Linked DNA regions of Homo sapiens. The protein of the gene in region 2 interacts with the protein of the main gene of each other region in a biochemical or structural test. Each region holds a gene or a part of one and is shown on either strand. Other genes may lie near its edges. The genes, in order: CTTNBP2NL and MAP4K4.

Region 1 (7,526 bases), on a different chromosome or scaffold from region 2:
CTCACTGCCATCTCCACCTCCCAGGTTCAAGCGATTCTCCTGCCTCAGCCTCCTGAGTAGCTGGGACTACAGGTGTGCACCACCACGTCTGGCTAATTTTTTTGTATTTTAAGTAGAGACAGGGTTTCACCATGTTGGCCAGGCTGGTCTTAAACTCCTGACCTCAAGTGATCCTCCCACCTCCACCTCCCAAAGTGCTGGGATGGGATTACAGGTGTGGGTAACCATGCCTAGCCGAGTTGGGACATATTAGTGAAATGTTCCAGTTATTAACATTTGTGTGCAGAAGTGATTTATAAACACAGAGATAATAAAAGAATTCTTCTTTGTCATTGACAAGGAATAGAACTTTTTCTTGCCTAGGCTGGACTGTTTTGTAATTAAAGTGACTCTGAAGATTGTTTTAATTTTACTCTTTTATAAGGATGTATATTTATCATAACAGATCAAAGACTTTTTGTTTCATTTTACATATCGAACACTTTAAGTACAATATAATTTAGTTCTTTGTATATGTACCTCTTATTTTTATTTTATTAGAATCTAACAAATAATACTTGGTTTTTACTTAGAAGCTTAAACTAGAACCAAGAAGGACTTCCCAATTGCAAAAGGGCAACTGAAGTTATTTCCGAGGTCATCGATCTTGGCTGTCTGCAGTTTTTGATAGTGCCTTTCTTAAATTCTTTTGAAAAATGAGACAGGATAATAGTTACTAATAATGAAACCAGGTATCAGCAATGTGGTAAGATGTTCTACATTTATTAACTTAATCTTCATAGCAGCCCTATGAGTTAAATATCATCATCCCCCTTTCACAGATTAGAAAACGGAGTCAGATAACTTGCCCAGTCACACAACTAGGAAGATGCAGATGTGGCATCTGACTACCAAGCTACATGTTCTTTCCAATATAACCTCTAATAAAGTGTAGCTTTATTAGGTTTGTTAGAATTTTTTTGTTTAGTTTTGTTTTAGTTTTTATTTTTATTTTTAAAATAAATGTTATCAGATATATCCCTGATACTAAAGTGAACGTCATTTACTAGTTGCTGAAATTCACTTGTTAGAAAATAGAGGCTGGGCGTGGTGGCTCACACCTTTAATCTCAGCACTTTGAGAGGCCAAGGCGGGCGGATCACCTGAGGTCAGGAGTTGGAGACCAGCTTGGCCAACATGGTAAAACCCCATCTCTACTAAAAATACAAAAATTAGCTGGGCATGATGGCATGTGCCTGTAATCCCAGCTACTTGGGAGGCTGAGGCAGGAGAATCGCTGGAACCCGGGAGGCGGAGGTTGCAGTGAGCCAAGACTGCACCATTGCTCTCCAGCCTGGGCAACAAGAGCAAAACTCTGTCTCAAAAAAATAAATAAATAAAAAGAAAAAGAAAAAAAGGCCAGGTGTGGTGGCTCACACCTGTAATCCTAGCACTTTGGGAGACTGAGGTGGGCGGATCACCTGAGGTCAGGAGTTCAAGACCAGCCTTGCCAACATGGTGAAACCCCGTCTCTACTAAAATACAAAAATTAGCCAGGCGTGATGGTGGTTGCCTGTAATCCCAGCTACTCAGAGGCTGAGACTGGAGAAGTACTTGAACCTGGGAGACGGTGGTTGCAGTGAGCCGAAATCACCCCACTGCATTCCAGCCTGGGCAACTGAGTGAGACTCCATCTCAAAAAAAGAAAATTAGCAGTTAGAGCTGAGGTTACATCGAAGATGTTTTACTATGCTTTAAAAGACTTGGACAGCATGTCCTGGAACACAATCTAACAACAAAGTGAAGTATGCATTTTATACATGTTCACTTAAAAGCAGTAGCTCTGGAAGGAATCAATTCTTTTTTTGTGTGCCCCCCAAAATTAAAAAGAGTGATAAATTACTGGAGGATGTGTGAACTGGTCATGTTTTGATTCACTTTCCATAAGAGTGGCAATTTGAAAATAAAAAGTGGAGAGAGAAATATTTGTTCTACTTTGGAAATTATAAAATATATCTTACCATACACACTGGTCAGAAGGCTCTTCCAAGATTGTACAGCAGTCTAACTTGTATCTTTATGTGGTTTGTGAGAATTAGTGTTGTAGAAAGGATTGAGTTTGTGTCATGCAATTTGCCATTTAACATACTTTGGAACATGCAGATTCTCAGAGAAATGTGAACTTACCAAGTCAGATAAATTCAGTTTTTGGTAGCCTAGCCAATTAAGATGTTTAAACAGGCCTGGCACAGTGGCTCATGCCTGTAATCCCAGCACTTTGAAGGCTAAGGTGGGAGGATCACTTGAGCCCAGGAGTTTGAGTCCAGTCTGGGCAACACAGGGAGACCCCATTTCTACAAACAATAAAAAATAAATTAACCAGGCGTGGTGGCATGTATCGGTGATCCTAGCTACTTGGGAGGCTGAGGCGGGAGAATTACTTGAGCCCAGGAGGTTGAGGCTGCAGTGAGCCGTGTTTGCACCACTACACTCCAGCCTGGGTGACAGAGCAAGACCCTGTCTTAAAACAAAAAAAAATAAAGATGTTTAAACCCTATACTTTGAGAATTCATTTAAAAGTAAGTTTGCATATAGTTGAATTAAGTCTATTTTACTATACAAGATATAAATATTGTGTTAGCTATTGTCTGTGAAAGCAGACAATTTAAAAGAAAAATTTCTCCCATACTCCCACCAAACATTATCTCTTTTCCCGAATTTTATTTTAACCAATTGAAGAGGGATATCAGAATGTTTTATATACAGTTTTGGAAATTGGTTATCTAAAACTGGGAAATCTTTTGATGGTCTATCAATTTTTCAGAGAAATGGTATTCATTATAACACAATTTTACCTGAAAAATCAGTGGCTAATTCTTGTTTGCTTTTTTTTTGGTTTTTTTTTTTTGAGACAGAGTCTCACTCTGTCGCCCAGGCTGGAGTACAGTGGCGTGGTCTCGGCTCACTGCAATCTTTGCCTCCCGCGTTCAAGTGATTCCCCTGCCTCAGCCTCCCGAGTAGCTGGGACTACAGGCGTGCCCCACCATGCCCGGCTAATGTTTTGTATTTCAGTAGAGACAGGGTTTTACCATGTTGGCCGGGATGGTCTCGATCTCCTGACTTCGTGGTCCGCCCACCTTAGCCTCCCAAAGTGCTGGGATTACAGGCATGAGCCACTGCACCCAGCCCTAGCGGCTAATTCTTTCTGAGATTTCCTAGGATATTTGTTTGTAAACGTGTCTGGAGGAAATATGATGAAAAATTGATCTTTGTGAGTGGTAGTGAAATCAATAATTAAAGTGAATTTTACTTTCTGTTGTTGCTTAGTTTGTGATTAACACCAGAAAACATATTTCTATTTAATTTCAACTATTTCCTTTATTAAGGCATTTGATACTATAATTGCTCTTATCTCTCACTTTATTTTTTCTTTAATTGTATCAAATTAACTATGTCTTTGGAGATTGTCTGATTGTTACCTTTGTTTCAGGCTTTCAAGATGAATCTGGAAAAACTCAGCAAGCCTGAACTCCTGACACTATTTAGTATTCTTGAAGGAGAGCTTGAAGCAAGGGACCTTGTTATAGAAGCCTTAAAGGTATGTTAAAAGAAAAAAAAAAAGAGGTCATCATACATTGTGAAAGTCATTCATTAGTTTTAATTTATTTAACTAAGGTATTTCTGCAGTTTCCATTGAAATTAAATGGAGGACATACTGATACTTGCCATAGGTAGCCACCTACATTGTGTGTTATTAGGGACACTGGTGAAACCTTTCTGTTTTCAAAATAGTTCCCTTAGTTTCTCGATCTGATGTCTAGACCTTGAACTTCATTCTTTTTTTTTTTTTGAGACGGAGTGTCACTCTGTCGCCAGGCTGGAGTGCAGTGGCGCTATCTCGGCTCACTGCAACTTCTGCCTCCTGCATTCAAGTTCCTGCCCCAGCCTCCTGAGTAGCTGGGACTACAGGCGCACACCACCATGCCCAGCTAATTTTTGTATTTTTAGTAGAGACAGGGTTTCACCATGTTGGCCAGGATGGTCTTGATCTCTTGACCTGGTGATCCGCCCCCGCTTAGCCTCCCAAAGTGCTGAAATTACAGGTGTGAGCCACCACGCCCGGCAGAATTTCATTCTTTTAGTTTAGTGGCCCTTAGCTGTTTTTGAACGCTGACCCCTTTGAGACTTGATAAGAGCAACTTCCTAATAAATGTACATACATCCATATATCAAAATTTGAAATATAATATCTGGGAGATCAAGGATCCCATGAAAACATCCACGGATTCCCTGGACCCCAGATTAAGAATTCTTTTGGTAGTTTTAGCCCATTTCTAATTGTCACTGCTAATTGCCTATTGTTAGTCTCACTTCTTTGCCCCATTTATCATCTGTCTCAATCCCTTCATAATTAGGATAGGAGTGGAGGTAACAGCTGCCTCTAATGGAAAAATCAGAGGATGACCTCGTTTTCTCTTTTATAGTTTTACCGAGATAACCTGTCTGCTTTTCAGCCTTAGAAACTGTACAAACCTGTAGTGCTTTATGTGTCTATTTACTAATCACTGTATCCTCAGCACCCAGCATAGTGCCAGGCATGTAGATGCTCAGTAAATGTTTGTTGAACAAATGAAATGATTGTACCATTGTGGTGTGTTACTTTAAAAGATTACTATAATACTTCTAAGTGGATGTTGTGAATTACTAAATTTTAAAGCCTCTTCTTATGTACTCTGCAGCACATACTGCCTTCTGGTTTTAATGTTAACAGATGCTTAGATGCTTTTTGCACATGTTTTCCTAAAATATATTTTTTTCTTCATGAATCCAATTTTGGTTACTATAGGCAGTTCTGATAAGTTGAGAGAGAAGCTTGAGAAGCAAGAGCTAAAATTAAGGGAGCATTTTGATATAAGATACCATTCAGAATCAGGCACAAGTGTTGTATTTAGTCTGCATATGGTCTGTAGGTGATAAAATTATTCTGAGGCTTAACTCTGTGCAGTTTAGGTGAAATGAATAACTTCACCAGAAGTGACATATCTTTAAACAATCTATTGTTAGATAAAATAGGGGGCAGCCGGGATTAAAATTGTTTCAATCGTTTGAGAAAAGTAACTGCCATAGCATTCTTTAAACTGAAGTATCATTTTATTTATGGAGTTTTGGGGGGTTTTTTGTTGTTATTTGTTTTGGTTCTCCAATGTATCAGGATTTTACTGCATTATTTGTATCGTTTTTGCTTAACAATAAACACCTGTTGGACTTTATGAACTACTATGGCAACTTACCAATTTTCTTCCTTTTAATATTGGTTCTTAATTGATGCTTAGTCGGTTGAAAAGGTTTTGGTCTTTGTTCTAAATAGTTATGATTTGTTTTTCTTTTCTGTTTTGTCTCCAGTAAAAAAAAGCTTATCTTTTTATTTTCTCCCTAGCTTCAAAATAGATTTTTGTCTGGACATAAAATCTGTTCTTTAATCTTATATCTCTAAACAAAACCATATGGCTTACTGTCACTTCTTTGGCAAGGCTTGAGTTTCTTTCAGGATATGTTGTAAAGTTCCCATAGGCTGTAAGTTGACCTCACCTATAGAGTTAGAATTGTAAAAGAGCTACATTCCTATTCCAAAATTTCTGCAAAGTGCCAGATTGCAGCTATACTCTTCTAGAGCCCCCCATAATTACGTTCTTTTTCTTCCCAGAATCCTCCTCACTCACTCTCTATTGCAGCCAAGACATGTTTGGCATAGAACCAGGGAAAGCCAATAGAAAATAATGTAACACATTATTCAGTGTCTTGTATATTTCAAATCTAATTGTTATGGAGGGGACCTATACTATATTTGGTCCTAATTAAATTTTATTTAAAGTGGTTTTCTGTTTTAGAAGGAATCATGTCAGAAAAAAAAAAACTTCTTTATGAACGTCTTTCCCTTTTATTACTTTAATTTCATGAATAAGAACACCAAAGGAATACCCTCTACAATGAAAGCAAATTACATTGCTCATGAACTGTCTGGGGGAAGCAGAGAGTGGAACCACATAGTTCAGCAGGAAAGCCTCAGTTCATTAATTCCAAGCAAATCTAGTAAATGGCTTCCTACCATAGGCTGTGATTGCTTCAGAGGAGAATAAAGGAAGGTTAATCAATGGCCATTTTAAAAAATCTGAAAAATAGATTTGACTGCTAATAAAATTTAGATTAAATAGTTTATTTCTGAATATTCCACATCGGGTATATTACATCTGCACATCTTAGATCTGATGCAAAGCCACACTAAATGGCTTCTGTGACTAAATAGAATCCACCTTGCATTTATTGGTATTGCTTTATTTTAAAGCATTCTTTAAATCATCTATACAATGATAAATGGTGAAATATTACAGCTTTCATGTGCGATTAACTTAAGGAGTCTTGAATTCGTTTCCATTGATGCCTCAATCATAAAATAGGGATATCCTCTTTTAAAACCGAGGATAGAACTTTGTTGTGTTTGGCCAAATGCTGTTGCAAAATCCCCCAAGCAAGAAGATTTACAGGCAAAAATGTTGTAGACATGACAAAGTTAGAAGTATATTTAGAGTATGAGATTATGTAATACATCATTCTATAGGTTTAACTGTTGTGAGTTTTTTCAGCCACAAAGGGTTAAAATGAAAAAATCGAAATGTTATGTCTTTGTTGAAACAAATAATTTACTTTCACTGAAAATATTATTGAAAAAATAATCATAAGGATCTAATGACAGTGCCAAAATATAGAAAACAAAAGTTACCATGGAAGGTGCTGTGGCTTAAGAACATCACAGCTATGATCATATAGTGGTTAGTACTCTGTGTTGTGCCTGCAGCAACCTCAGTTGTATCCAAGTTGTGGCACCAAAAATTAAAAAAAAAATAACAATGCAAGTTCACTATAAGTCCATAGCCTAACATCTGCCTTTGGTCACGGCCTTGTACTTATTATGGAAGCAGATTATTATAAAGACTGGTCTGAAATGAAAAACGTAAAATTGAACTTAGCAATCACCATACATACTAATAAGCCTGTGAAGAGAGTTTGCATTTTTTAAAAAAATCAGATATTAGCTTGCTTGATAACAGATCTTTGAAAGTCTTAAACGGACTCAAGTTGAAACATTCTCTGGCACCCATAAGCCTGGACCTAACAGTTCTTTGGCCAAAAATGATCCCATTTTAATAGATGGTTTTTAGGAAGAGCTTTTAAGATTGGGATGGGTGGTTTCGATCATTGATAAAGATCACATGAACACATGAACATAAGCTATAACTGACAGAAGTCCAATTTCTGTCTAGTTCCCAACTGGGATATTAGGGTGGGAGCAGAACTTTATTTAGGTTACTGAGTTATAAGGTTTTTATATTTACAGTATTCATAACCTTTATTATAAAACGTTAATGAATTAATCAGTGACCATTTGTGGCCACATTTTAATATGTTTTTTAGAGTTGGAGTGGCTTTTTTTTTTTTTTTGAGATGAAGTCTCGCTCTGTTGCCCAGGCTGGAGTGCAATAGCATGGTTT
Region 2 (7,252 bases):
AACAATGTGATTGTGTAAAAAAGAAACATTCTAAAGTATTTACAGCTGAAATAGCATTTGGGGTTTACATTAAAATAAAGGAGGAAAAGAAGAATACAGATGAGAAAAGATTAGTCATCTGCTGATAAACTGAGCTCTCTAGTCTTTATGTTTGAAATTTTCCATAATAATATAAAAATGTAACTGCTTATGAGCAAAATCTCAGGCACTATTTTGTTCTGGACTGTAGGCAACTTTTGCACAGATTTAATTCCCTAGGTTTGCATAATTAGAGAAATTCTCAACTGTACCGACTTTGTAGTCAGAGAGCTGTGTCATGCCAGTATCCCAAATACCTACCAAACGTAGCTAGCGCTCAGCAAACCTAGTTCAAAAGCTCGGGAAGGTTGCGGGGAATGGAACCAAAATGGCAATGAGGGGAAATAACAATGAACCTGACTAAACTCTTACCATAAACAGCTCCCACCTCTTAAAACCAATAAAGACAAACTGGGGTTTCATTCTTTCCTTTCTCTTAAGGTTTAAAGACTATATCGCCTTCTAGCTTACTTCTCTGCCCTTAACATCCATGCTGACCAAGTAAGACACAAACAATCCAACTACTGTGTAGCCAGGTCAAAAACAAGCTCTGGCTAATTCACTTGGAAGACTACAATCACCATTTAATTTGGCGAGAAAAAACTGGGTTAGAAAAAAAATGACTGGTGCTTAAACAAACAACAGACCGGGGAGAATGTCTTTTAGCCAGTTACCAACCACTCAGTGAGTTGCAACACAATCTTTTCCAAAATTTTCCAAAGCCTTCCAAATTCAGTTGAGCCGGGCAAGCTGAGTTAACGGGGCTCTCTTTCAAATTCAAAAATCTGGCCCCGGCCCGAACAGTTAACCAACAAAACACAAGCTAATACACTTGAGATCACCTAAGAATACTGACCCAAGTTCGGACCACAGTCCAGTACAGTACACTACCCAGGCTAGAAGTCTAGGCTAAGGAGAGGCGTTCAAGTGATAGATAAACTCTACTCACAACGCAGAAAAGAGACAATAAGATCCACACTTAATCTAGCCTAAGAAAAGGTCTACAGTCGGCTTCCAACCCCCCCAACTCCACCCATTTTTAATGAGACAATGACAATTCTTCATGGTGAACCACAGAGCCCTGCTTCCCTAACCTTGTACCGACTCTAACAGAACACTCCCCCAGTGCAGATTAAACTTTTAGAAAACGTTCAGTATTGAGAAACAAATTAAGACAGGAAAAATTTAACATTCCGTTCTGAATTTTCAAGGCCTGCGCCTCCATTCCCTACACATCTTTCATAATCTCTAGACTGTACAATGTATAAAATGAACACTGTTAGTCACATCAGGTGTCAGCTACTCAGCGCAGACTCAGTCTCCAGATTTGCTAGTTTCATTTATCGCTGGGGTGGAGGGTGGGTGTTAAAATTTTGAAAAAAGAGAAAGACCTGGGTGGGTGTAAACCAGGGCATCCTCTATATTCTCTTCGCTCTCTGTCATTTCTGTTTCAATTACACAGCTGTCAAACAGGTTATTCCTGGAATTCAGATTTTATAATCCCCACACTGTAATTCTTCCTGCTGCTGTTGCCCAAACACACACTCCTCCCTGCTTCCCCAAAATACGTATCCATCAATAGAAAGGATGACAACCACAGTTATAAAGTATTCCCAGGTAACGCCAAACTCCCCACCTTGAGCAACTGGCAAGCACTGAGTGGAGGCTGAAACATGATGACAATTTTCACGATGGCCAAAGCAGTGGTTTAGGATCGTCAGAGGCAAGGCCCGCCTCCACTGTATTTCAATTTACACACAAACTCAGAAGGCCGGATTTGGGGAAAAAAAGAAAAAATTCAGGTTGTCTTATTTTTAAAAAATGCTTTTCCATTTTATCGAAGTAAAGTGCATGCCTAAGAGTGTAGCTTATTTCCTTATCTCAAAGCCAGGAAATGAGGTCTTTTAAGGCCAGTCTGAATATAAACTCGGTGTGCAAAAACAGAGGGACTGCAAGGCGAAAGAAACCCCTCTCCCAACTTTGGCCAAGCGGCGTGGCCTCCAGTCAGCAGCATGTTTATCACCCTCTCCTCGTCCCCCAATAAGAAGTTTCCACATGCCACGGGAAACAAAGAAGGCGCCCACACCGACCTTATAGACTTGTCCATAGGTGCCATTTCCAACCACTTCCACCAGCTCAAAAATCCCAGCAGGATCCTGGAGAGGAAGGAGGGGAGGGGTTATCATTTAAAAGAAGCCAAAAAAATGAATAAATCAAGCAAGGCAGTTGGAGAGAAAAGGCGGTGACAAAAGAGGTGGGCTTCGCCCCGCGCGGTCCCCCAGCGCCCGGGGGTCGCGCGGCGGGCTCGGGGCGTGGGGGCGGTAGAGGGTAGCGCCCGCCCCGCACCAGCCCGCACAGGAAGACAAAGGGGCCGCCGCGCCCCGCGGCTCTGCCCACGGCGGCGCCCGAGCGCCCGGCCGACCTGGGCGCGGCCCCGGCTGCCGGCTGCCGGCTGCCCGCTCCCCGCGCGCCCGCTCGCGGGCCCACTCACCCGCAGGGAGGAGAGGTCGATGTCCACCAGACTTTTTGCAGGGGAGTCGTTCGCCATTTTCCCTTTTTGCCACCAAAAAACAAATAACAATAAATGTCTCTGTCGCTCTGTGTATCTCAGCCGCAGACCAGGCCGCCGACCGCGCTCCTCGCGCGGCAGCCGAGCCGGCCCGGTACTCTCCTCGCGGGGCCGCGGGCGGCGGCGGCGGGCTCGGCTGCGCTCTCGGGCCGCTCGGGGCTCTCTGCCGGCCGGGCCGCGCGGAGGGCGGACGGAGCGTGCACGGGCGGCGGCGCTCACACCATGGCGCGGGGCCGGCCGTCAGGCCCCCGGGCGTCGCCCGCCGCCTCAGGCCCCGGCGCCCGCGCCCCGCGCCGCGCGCCTCGAGGACGGGCCCGGAGCGTGGGGCCGCGGCGGCGCCGAGTTGAGCGAGTGAGCGCGAGGCAGCGAGACAAAGATAACCCGGGAGGCGGAGGCGGAGGCGGGGAGCGAGGTGGGGAGGGAGGGGGCGGCGGCGGCGCTGGAGGAGGAGAAACGGGACACCAAAAATATATTCTGAGGAGAGAGAAAACAGCTCCCCCTTTCCTCCTCAGGCAGGAAAAACCGGCGGAAACGCACTCACACCCCGAGCCCTGCCGGGTAGGGCGCGGGCCGAGGCGCCCGCGCGGCGTGAATATTCATCAGGGGTGGGGCTCGAACAATGGCCGCGCCGGCGGGCAGCGCGGGCAGCGGTCCCGACACGACGCCCGGCGCCCAGGGTGCGGCCTCCGCGCTCGACCCCGCACGGCGCTCCCGAAAACTGCAGGAGCGGGGAGGAAGCGGGCTGGGATTTCCCCGGGGAGGAGCTGGGGTGGGGAAACGCCCCTACCTCGCGCTAACAACAAATGACACGAAACTGAGCTGGACCGACACTAAGAGGCCATGGACCCTCGCGTCTCCCAGGGCAAGGGTGTGTCCCGCCGGCCGCGTCCCGGCTCTAGAGGGACCCGAACCCGGTGTTGCCGAGCGGAGGAGGGGCCTCCCTCGATCCTCGCCCCCTCCTCGCCCCATTCGCCCCATCCCCCACTCTCCCACACCCTAGAGAGGAGACCCTTAAGTCCCTCGTTTCCGGCTTCCCTGCACGGTTTTCTTTTCCTTTCTCTGCTTTTGCAGGCTAAATGTGTGGTACGGTTGTGGTTGTAGTTGTGGGATTCGCTGAGCATCGCTGGGCTGCCCGGCCATATCCAAAACAGCTCCTGTAATTGTCTGGCGCTGCGCTCCTGGCTGCGCTCGGTAGGTGAGCACTGTGTTTGGGGCCCTTAGTACCAACCCGCATTTTGTAACCTGGAGATCACTAAGGATCAACCAACAGGTTTCTTCCGGCAACCTCGGAAGCCAGTCGGTAGTTAGGCACTTTAATGCCAGTGAATCAACAGTCATTTATATCGCATTCCTCCACCGTCCAAAAACTTTCAGTGGTTCCCTGTTACCTGACAGGTGTTCTCAAAACGTGAGTGCTTCAGGCAAAGTGCCAATTGCCTGGCCCTGCCTCCCGAGTTCTCGTTTCAGGAGGTCTGCAATGGGCCTGAGAATGTGCATGTGTAAGTTCTCAGTGTAGCTAACGTCGCTGTTACAGGGATCACTCGTTGACAACAGTGGCCTCCGGCTATTCATGATTGGATTTTCATAAACATCACCATCATCATCTACCAATTCTTATGCACATACTGTGTCTCCCCCACACAAACGCGTTGTGCCGAGTGCTTTACACACAGCACTCTATTTACAGCCTTGAAGGAATGTTATCCTCCTTTTAGGTAAGGAAAGCAAAGTACTGAAAGATAAGGAGTATGTCCAAATTCCTTAAAAGCACAGCCTGGAAGTGGAGCAGGGATTTTCACCAGGTTAGCCTGTTCCCAAAATCCAGATCTCTGATTCAGCCAAGTTAGCTCTACCCAGAATATGTATAGCACTATCCTGCTTCCCAACAGTTTGGTTTCTGAAATTTTTGACTATGAGAATCCCTGGTAAGGGTAAAATATATAGAGGGGCTCCTGGTATCCATTTGTAAGGAAAATTATAGTAACCAAGTATTCCTATGAATGTATTGGTGCTTTTAGATAATTTTGGTTTTTGTCAGCAGCAATGTCATTATCTATGAGTGTAAATAAAATAATTTACTCAGAGAACTAGACAGAAACACATCTGAACTTTCAGGCTATCTTACTATTGATAACATTGTTTTTTGTTTGTTTGTTTGTTTTGAGACAGAATCTTGCTCTGTCACCCAAGCTGGAGTGCAGTGGAGTGCTCTCAGCTCACTGCAACCTCTGCCTCCTGGGTTCCAGCAATTCTCCTGCCTCAGCCTCCCCAGTAGCTGGGACTACAGGTGCCTGCCACCATGCCCAGCTAATTTTTTATTTTTAGTAGAGACAGGGTTTCACCATGTTGGCCAGGCTGGTCTCGAACTCCTGACCTCAGGTGATCTGCCCACCTCGGCTTCCCAAAGTGCTGGATTACAGGCATGAGCCACCATACCTGGCCTATTGCTAACATTTTAAGTGTTTATTATTAATAATAGATGATACAACGTGCTAAGTCCTTCACATGTATTATCTCATTATTCTGCTCTTAATTCCAAATGACACTCCATTATTCCCACTTTATATGTTAGAAAACCAGCCCTTAAAAAAGTTAAGTAACTTGCTCACTATGCACAACTAGACCTGATGCAGAAACGCCAGGGCCCCTTCCAAAGCAGCCTCCTTCCACAGATTCAACTCCAAACCCATGACATTGAAGCCCACCTCACACCAACCCTTCCTCTCAATCTATCCAAATTCCTTCATCACCTCAAGCCCAACTCAAAATCATCTCTTCCTTCTCCTACAGGCTTTCTTTAAATCTGTCTCTCTCCTAAGCTGCTATGTCTATATCACCATTGTGACCATTATCTCCCACTTTAGAGTCATTACCTATTCTGGAAGTGCCTACACAGTGCAAGGCGCTGGCTTAGCCATTGCCTGGGATATCAGGAAGATCAAGACAGCCTACCCTCAAAGAGCTTACACACTGATAATAGGCATAAGACAGCTTCACAAATAACCATAGTACAAAGCAGAACAGTGTAGATTTTAGCAAGATGGAAAGAGTACTAAACAGGTCTAGTGGAAAGTATGCTGGATTTGGGCAAAATTGAACTGGGTTTGAACCCTAGTTATTGGTCAGTTGTGCAACCTGGCATGTGTTTCTTCTGAGCCTCCCTTTCCTCCTCTGCATACCAGATGAAGACTGGAAATGAGAAGAACAAGCAAGAGGCAAGAGCCTATGCCAGGGTAATAAAGGGTGACAGGAGATATTAATATAAGAGGTCTTGAGACAGCAGATTCTCTAAGGCTTGGCATCTGATACGATGCCAGAAGGCAGTGTAGAAAAGAAGGTAAGAGATTTGTTTGTGGTTCAGAGCTTGGGAGGATGTCCACACTTGGGAGGATGCTGTCACAACAGAGTAAAGGATGGGAATTACTAAATGGTAGCAATAAAGGAAGATTTAGTTTTGAACCCAAAACCAAAGTTAATTACCTTTTCATGCAGGAGCAGTGTACACATGCCCAGCTTGAAACTCCACTCTAGCGCCCAGCATAGGGGCCATGTTTTCAATCAACACCCATGTATTAGCTTGGGCTGCCATTGCAAAATACTATATAGCCTGGGTGGCTCAAATAACAGAAAATTGTTTTCTTGCAGTTCTGGAGGCTAGAAGTCCAAGATCAGAGTTCTCACCAAATCGATTTCTGGTGAGGGTTCTCTTTCTGGCTAGCAGGCAGCCTCCTTCTTACTATGTTTACACATGGCCTTTCCTCAGCACGCTTGAGGAGAGAGAATGAGTTCTCTGGTGTCTCTTATGAGGCACTAATCCTATCCATCAGGGCCCCACCCTTAAGACCTTGCTTAACCTTAATTACTTCCTTAGAGGCCCTGTCTCCAAACACAGCCACACTAGGGATTCAAGCTTCAACAAATGAATGGAGGGATTGGGGGAGGGGACACAAGTGCTCAGTTCATAAAAAGCTGTGGGTAGTACATGATGCCAGGAGGTAGTCTTGTCACTGCCTTTGTCCTTAATAATCTGTTGAGGACACAAAATAAATCCACCCAAAAGGACAATCAAGGTGATACAGTGGAAAATAAATACCAATTTGACATTTTACATAGGGAGGAAAACAATGTAGCTTGCTTGGACAAAGAATGAGAAGTTAAAAGAATGAGGAGACTGGCCCCACTGGGCAGCGGACTCAGTTCAGAGAACCCTGAGAAATAGAGCAAGATGGCTGGGCACAGTGGCTCACGCCTGTAATCCCAGCACTTTGGGATGCCGAAGCAGGCAGATCACTTGAGCCCAGGAGTTCGAGACCAACCTGGCCAACATGACAAAACCCTATCTCTACTAAAAATACAAAAAATTAGCCAGGCCTGGTGGTGGTTCGCACCTGTAGTCCCAGCTACTTGGGAGGCTGAGGCAAGAAAATCGCTTGAACCCAGAAGGTAGAGGTTGCAGTGAGCCAAGATTGCACCACTACACTGCACTCCAGCCTGGGCGATGGAGCAAGACTCCGTCAAAAAAAAAAAAAAAAAAAAAGGAAGGAAGGAAGGCTGGCCATGCGGGATGGCTCATGCCTATAATCCCAGCACTTTGGGAGGCTGAGG

What was found.
Region 1: the proteins of MAP4K4 (region 2) and CTTNBP2NL form a complex in vitro, tested with the Homo sapiens proteins (one study listed by BioGRID).

What each region holds. Positions count from the first base shown.
Region 1 is NC_000001.11:112,412,688-112,420,213, forward strand, and holds part of CTTNBP2NL (CTTNBP2 N-terminal-like protein), read left to right. Parts: intron 1-3,469; 5' UTR 3,470-3,478; coding exon 3,479-3,577; intron 3,578-7,526. UniProt on the Homo sapiens protein: Regulates lamellipodial actin dynamics in a CTTN-dependent manner. Associates with core striatin-interacting phosphatase and kinase (STRIPAK) complex to form CTTNBP2NL-STRIPAK complexes.
Region 2 is NC_000002.12:101,693,455-101,700,706, reverse strand, and holds the start of MAP4K4 (mitogen-activated protein kinase kinase kinase kinase 4), read right to left. Parts: upstream 3,001-7,252; 5' UTR 2,627-3,000; coding exon 2,570-2,626; intron 2,443-2,569; exon of another isoform or gene 2,265-2,442; coding exon of another isoform or gene 2,235-2,264; coding exon 2,169-2,234; intron 1-2,168.